2 linked regions of the Homo sapiens genome follow. The gene in region 1 interacts genetically with each later gene. Each region holds a gene or a part of one and is shown on either strand. Other genes may lie near its edges.

What was found. Genes that interact genetically often act in the same process or in processes that back each other up.
Region 2: changes in EDA (region 1) and RPS6KA2 together harm fitness less than expected from each alone (positive genetic interaction), as found in Homo sapiens cells (one large-scale study listed by BioGRID).

The regions. Positions count from the first base shown.
Region 1 is NC_000023.11:69,958,463-69,962,113, forward strand, and holds part of EDA (ectodysplasin-A), read left to right. Parts: intron 1-3,651. UniProt on the Homo sapiens protein: Cytokine which is involved in epithelial-mesenchymal signaling during morphogenesis of ectodermal organs. Functions as a ligand activating the DEATH-domain containing receptors EDAR and EDA2R. May also play a role in cell adhesion.
Region 2 is NC_000006.12:166,620,601-166,624,251, reverse strand, and holds part of RPS6KA2 (ribosomal protein S6 kinase alpha-2), read left to right. Parts: intron 1-3,651. UniProt on the Homo sapiens protein: Serine/threonine-protein kinase that acts downstream of ERK (MAPK1/ERK2 and MAPK3/ERK1) signaling and mediates mitogenic and stress-induced activation of transcription factors, regulates translation, and mediates cellular proliferation, survival, and differentiation.

The sequences.
Region 1 (3,651 bases):
TATAACTGGCTGAAATCTGAGAAAGAGCTCAGAACAAGGACCCCATAATAATACCAAAAAAAAAAAAAAAAAGAGCCAGAGCAGTAAGATAGGGTTTTCTAGTCAGTGGAGGTGGCAGCAGCATTGAGCCTTTGAATGGAGAACTGGACCAGTGGGGCCATTCTCTAGAGAAGTCATTTTGCATACAATTGATGACCAATTCAAGCCTAAGAAATGCAGTCCATGTAGTAAAAGTTACCCATTATTCACCTACTACTTGTAGCCAGTTTCCCAGAAGTCTTCTGGCTATGTGGAAGCAGGGAGCTAAGAAGCATGGACCCTTTCCTCTCCTAATCATCTCACCCTCTGATACATGTAAGTCTCTCCACCTTCAGCTTTTCCCCTGAGGCTACTCCCACAACCATCAAACTTTTCATAATCCCTGGTTGCAAAGGAAGAGAGGAGACAGGTGGTAAGAGCAATATCACCTTCTATAGTGGGCGTGGTCTTCCCTCCCTCTCTGAGTGGTAAGTCTAATGGCTTCTAAGGTTTACCTCTTCATCTAACCTCCGAAGTTTTCTCTTAAAGAAAATAATTTCCTCCTTTCCCTAAAACTACTTTATCCAAATTCAGCTACCAACGTCTCTGATACCGATCTTCCTTAGAATGTTTATTCTGTCCTAATACAAAACAGTTTTCTCTCTGGTCAAGGTCAAAGCCTCTCATTAATTTTTAGCACTTCTTATATACTTCCCTCCTGATCTGATACTCTAGTCAGTCACTAGACTCTAGTCTCTTGGTGCCAATGCCAAGTTTCTCATGCAGTCCAGGCATTTTTCTTTAATCAGTATAGCTTGGAGGAATCCAAGAGTCCCTTAGAGTTAGGAGTATAGAATGCCTGGGGGTCCTTGAATTTTATTAGATTTCCAACTTTTCACCTGGTGGTCTGTAGAACCATTTCTTTAGATGTGGCAGATGCTCCAATGAGTTAAAGAGTGGTAAGTCAATCCAAATCTCCTTTTCCTTTGAACCATTCTTGTTACTCTGATGAGCGTATACTATATTTATTCAATACACTCATCAAATATTTACTAAGTAAATACAGCAGTTTATATAGTACTTGAATAAACATTCAATAAGGATTTTTTTTAATATTCCCACTGCCTAGAAACAGACTTGGCACCTAGTAGACCCTCAATAAATATGTCCTGTTGCCCTCAAAGTGATTTACTTCCAGCATAAAGAGGCAGACAATAAATAAAGTTGGTTAAATTTGATAAGTGGTATGAAGAAAAATATAGCTGAGCAACAGGGAGAGAGAGTGATGGGGTATGCTGTAAGATGATCAAGGAAGGTACTCTGATAAGGGAACATTTGGGAAGAGACCTGAATGAAATGAAGTAAGAGCTATGCAAATGTCTGGGGAAAAAAGAAGCAGAAAATTCAAAGGCTCTGAAGCAGAAGAATGTTTGGTATGTTCCAGAAAGATCAGTGTGGCTGGGAGCAGAGTAAGAAGAGGAAGAGGGAAGGAGATGAGTTAAGAAAGCAAAATCCAATCTAGAGCCTTGTTGGCCAAGGTAAGGACTCTGGCTTTTATTCTGCATGAAATGGAGGACCACTGGAGGATTTTGAGCAGAGGAATGACAGGATCTGATGTATGTTTTAACAGCATTCCTCTGGCTGCTGTATTGAAAATAGGTGCAGGAAGAAAGGATACAAGCAGGAAGAATCTTTAGGAGAGTATTACAATAATCCAGGCAAGAGATGATGGTGGCTTAGACCAGGATGGAAGCAGTGTGGGTGGGGAGAAGTGGTCAGATTTTAGAGAGATTTTGAAGGAATGGCTGAAGGATTTTTCAGATTGATTAGATAAGGGATATGACAGACAGAGAAGAGGCATCAGTGACCCCAGGGTTTTGGACTTCAGGAACTAAACAGGTAGAATTGCCATTTCTGAGATGAGGAAGCAAAGGAGAGAAGCAGTGTAGAGGAATATGGGGAAAGAGTTTAGTTAGGCTTGTTAAATTTGAGGTAGCTATTAAACAGCCAAGTGGATATATAAGTCTACACTAAACATCACTGTGTATCATGAAAATAAGATGACTCTCTTTTGTACAAAGGACTTGTCATTGAAGAAGTGAGTCAGTCTGGAAACTGCTCTGAACAGAATAAGAGGTAGGATGGGATAGGTAAATCATAGTGGGGTGAGTTATGGCCAAAAAAAAAATCTTATCAGGTGTTGATTATAAATTCACAAATTACTTGATATGTTATAATAAAAATTTAACTATCTAAGCTCAGGTTTGCCTCACAAGTGTCAAAGAACAAGTCATTTACCTTGAAGAGTTAAGAACATGGCAGAAGTTCGTGACCAGCCTGGGCAACATGGTGAAACCCCGTCTCTACCAAAAATACAAAAAAAAAAAAAATAGCGGGGCACTGTGGCACACACCTGTAGTCCCAGCTACTCAGGAGGCTGAGGTAGGAGAATTGCTTGAGCCCAAGAGGCAGAGGTTGCAGTGAGCCAAGATCGTGCCACTGCACTTCAGCCTAGGCAACAGAGTGAAACTCCATCCAAAAAAAGAAAAAAAAAGAAAGAAAGAAAGAAAGAAAAAGAAAGTCTAGACCCTACTTCATTTGTTTGGTCATTCATCATTTAACAAATGTTTTTTACAGGTGCCCGCCACAACACCCAGCTAATTTTTGTATTTTTAGTAGAGACTGGGTTTCACTATGTTGGCCAGGCTGGTCTCGAACTGCTGACGTTGAGTGATCCGCCCACCTCAGCCTCCCAAAGTGCTGGGATTACAGGGGTAAGCCACTGCATCCAGCCTAGACTTTCTTTCTAGGAACTATAGATATTAAGCTTAATGATCTCCACAAATCCCTGTGAGAGAAAAAAATTTTTATAAACAGTTCATTAACTCTTGGAAACGGAAGGGATGTAGTGATCCTTAGGAGCTGCATAGGTTCACCAAGAACAAATCAGGCTGCAGAAGCCTATTTTCCTGTTTTCATCAGACTATTAAACTAGTTGATTAGAGGCATAGCATACACATAGTCTATCTTGCCTTTTAAAAAGAAAGTCAGTGGCAATATCCAGGGTATATACAATCTTTCTGACTCACCATTCAAGAATGACTAGGTTCATCTCAGTTTCTCCATTCAAATTACTTTATAAATGAAAGCATTGGCTAGCTAAGCAGGAGTCTCAAACACATGGTTAGTTTCAACTCTTAGAAAAGAAGTGAATTTCGTTTTCTTTACTACATTTCTTCCTTGAATTCACTGACTTGAGTTGGCCAGAAGTATTTCAGATCGTTTAAGTTTATTCGTACTAATTATGTGAGGCCTTTGGTTGTTGTTCTTCTTCAAAGAAAGTATGATACCTTCACTGTGGGTGTTGAGTCACAACAGTTCTAGAAATCTGTGCCAGGATTTCTTGCTGTGTCTTATCTTTGTGATGTGTTTCTGAAGTAATAATAGCTCCAGGTGGCTTGTTTGGTCATCTCTTGCACAGCACTCCAGAAATCCACAGAACTTTATTTTCTAGTTAGAATGAAATGTAGAATGTATTTGGGAGGTCATGAGGCCTTAGAATCAGGTAAAATGAATCCAGAATTCCCAAGGAGGTAGTTTCCATATTTCACAAATATTATTGTAAAAACATCT
Region 2 (3,651 bases), on another chromosome or scaffold:
CTTTGAAAATTTTTGTTATTTGAAATTCAAAGTCTAGTGACATAAACAGGAAATTAATGTAGTTACTTTAAGTTGAAAACAATATCTTCATTTAAAAGGCTTTCAGAGAGAGACTCAGTCCTAATGTTTTCATACTTGATTTTATTTATTTTCATTTTTTATTTTTTTAAATAATGAGAAATTTCTAAAGTTCCTTCTTTTTTTTCCTCTCTTTTACATTTATGCTTGGCAAAACTTCTCTGAACATACTTGATTTTAAAATAAATTTTACGTCCATAACCCAACATTTGCTAAACCCTAAGTGACAGAGAAGTCAGGTTACTTAATCATATTTGGAAACAGTTTATTAATTACAGATTAAAATGAAATTCACTGAATATTTTTGTCCTCTATCAGCATAGAACCAAGTGAGATGGCCAAGTTGTTGACTCTGGCAACTATAATTTTGGGGGTTTCTAGAGGAAAACTGGGTATCTTCCATAGACTTCCATGGGTGTGCCCCAGAAAGGTGTCAGGTCTCAGTGACCGCAAGACCCTCATCCCCAAGAGAGCTCTGCTTTCAGGGCATTGACAGTATTGCCTAAGAACCACGACACATTGCTGGGCAGAGTAACCTGCATCTCATTCAACAGTCCACTTCATAGATGAGGAAAGGGGACACTGGCCCATTTGCTAAGCTGGAGTTACCGTCACCTGGCTGGGATAGGATACCCTCTGAGTGTCTGGCCTATGAGTCACTGCACTTATCTACAAAATACGTTACCCATGCCAGTTGCCTAATGAGCTAAGGTGGCTTTGAGAGCAAGGAAATGCACCACCCTCACCGTCCTAACTTAGCAGAACCATAGGTCCACTGAGCTGAAAGGAATCTTCTCCCCACTCAACCTTTCCACACGCCAGTAGAGCCTCAGAAGATGGGATGTGGAACCTCCAAAGCTTAGTTTGTATTTCTTCCAACAGGGAATGTACATTTAAACTAATTAAAAGTGAGATTATTAACTCAAGACTTCCACCAACTTGCTAAAGGTGTCAATATGCAAAGTCATTTCATTTAGGAAGCAGTTATTAGTTTGGAGTTACCAAAGCCAGAGGGTTCTCTTTGGTGACCTATTATTTGAGCTATTTCAGCTGTAACTGGCATTTCTCCTGAAAGACAGTAGGGAGTGAATGAGGAAGACAAAATGCGAGACTCTACCTGGGATATTGCTAGTGATGAACTGCTGAGTGGAAGGAGAATTTCGTTTTATTTATCTATTTGCTCAATTGTTCATACACTCAAAAGATTTTAGCACATACTGTGTGCATTGTGCTAAGCAACTGGGACATAAAAATAGGATCCCTGCCCTCAGTGAGCTTAATGTCTAACAATAGAGGCAAACAAGTCAAAAGAAGCTTGCTATCAGGGTATAAGTGCTGTGAAATTATTGGCAGCTTTGGATTTAAATGGTCTGATTAGATCAATTGTCAATTTATTTCTATTTCTGGTGGTCACAGATCATCAGAATTCATCTATCTGTACATATAAAGACATTTTAATTGCTCATCCCTTTTAAGGAAAACATGGTATCCTAATAAAGGAAGTGTGAAGGGACTCTTAGCAAGCATCAGGAACAATATTGGCTCCAGTCATGGATAAAAAGAAAGCTTCCTGGAAAGTTTACCACTAAGGCTTATTCTTGGGGCATGATAGGTGAGCTCTTCTTCTAGATCTTGGGTGGTTTCCAAGAAAACCATTTCTAATTAAGATAATTTTCAGGTACTCTCAATAAATGCTCCCAAAGAAATTATGTTTATCTTAATTTTATTGGATTTTCTGACAGCCAAAAAAAAACCACAATAAATAGTCCATATTAGTGAATACTGAATTGGAATTTGTTCTTCTTTTTGCTCCTTTATATACTCATTTTAAAGACATTAAGCTTAATTCCTTATTTGTGGTCACAATTTCTGTGATATGCCTTATGCTTGGAATTTCATTACATACTTTCTCTCTTTACGTTCAGGAAAAATCCCCGAAATAGTGTTGTTGTTTTTTTAAACGATGTGAAAAGACAACTAAACGTAGTGAGATTTTGCCCCTTTTGCTTTGCCCGTCCTTTTCCGTAAACCCACGTGCTGACTGTCTTTGGCCACACCCAGCACAGCAAAGACTGTTCAGACTATTTTTCATGCATTCAGAAGTAGAAGAATGAAGTGGAAGCCCATTAAATAAAAAAGGAACTATGTTCACATCCTCTGACTTACCATTTACCTGGAATTTCATTCTGTTTCTCACATGTGGGGCAAATAGTTTCTCAGAAGTGGCAATTTAATAGTGGGTGGGAGAAGTATGAACTCTCTGAGGCAGCTTCCAGGGCTGCTGGCTGTGAAGGGGAAGGGGAGGAAAGAGGCTTTAGGGCTGTAGCTTCAGGATGAAGGCAACGTTCGGGTCAACCAGAGATGTGTGCGGCCTTGGGGACCTTCAGGGAGCTGCCAGGAGAGTGCTCCTTTGATATGGGGGACCAGGATGAGTTTACTTTGTATGACGTGGAGTTGGTAACCAGTAACTTAGCCAGAAATACTCTACCTTTTTTGCTCCAAGGATCTGTGCTTATTAAATAAGCAGAGCTGGTCTAAGACTAGCAGCATTCTCTAGAATGCTCTGCTTTTATTTCTGATTACACTGAATTAGGTTGTGTTGCATTTTCTCAGCGTTTTATGTTTGCTGATATATTTTCACTAGTAAAAGCTATTACATTGAATTCAAATAAGTAAAAATTATCAACAAATAGGCTGTTAAGCTACAGTGTGATTTAATCAAGCAAATGGATCAGACACAAATATATTCCATATGAAATACTGTTAATCACATCTGACTTGCAGCTGCGTGAGAAGCCTTGCCTGCTAACTGCTTAGCTAGGGGAAAATAATGGTGCAGCTACAAGGAAGCCGGAGGCACCTGCATATCAGGGCGTGGAGGACAAATGTGCGTAACCATACACCTAGGATTTATTACCAAGCAGGCCAGAAGCAGTGTTTCCGACCAGCCAAGATGTGTACCTGTTGTTATGCAGTCATTTGCATATGTTATGCAGTCATTTGCATGCGTTCCTGGAGATCAGTCAGAGGGTGTTCCCAAGAATGCTACTGATATGAGAGCCCTACCTGATTCCATTCGGCGAATGCTCCCTAGCCAGTCTTCCTCTATGAGCCTTGGTGTGCAAAGCTCCCCAGGCTGGGTGGTTTGCCCTTGCCTTGCCCCGTGGAGGTAGGATTCTGCAGGCATGGAGCAGGTGGTGTCCCTGTTTCCCTCCTGCCCCTGCTCGGTGCCAGTCTCCTGCCGTGGGAAGTGCCTGACCTTGCCGGCTGCCCCTTCTCCCAGCCACCTCACACTGCCCTAGTGTTCTTGCTGTCTCCCTTGCCAAACCACTGAATCCTTCTGAGCACCTGTCTCCCCAGCTACAAAATAGGGGTAACCCTGTAATAAGGGTTATCTGCAATTTATTAAATGCTTCATCAGTGAAATGTGCCTTGTCAGGACAGCTTGCACTTGGCATCCGTGGTGTTGCACAAAGCTGACTTTGGTGAGACCATATCTGTAAAGGTTCTTGCACTACATTATGGGGGAAAAATGTTTTTTCTCTCCTGCCAGCCTCTTTCCTTGCCCCTTTG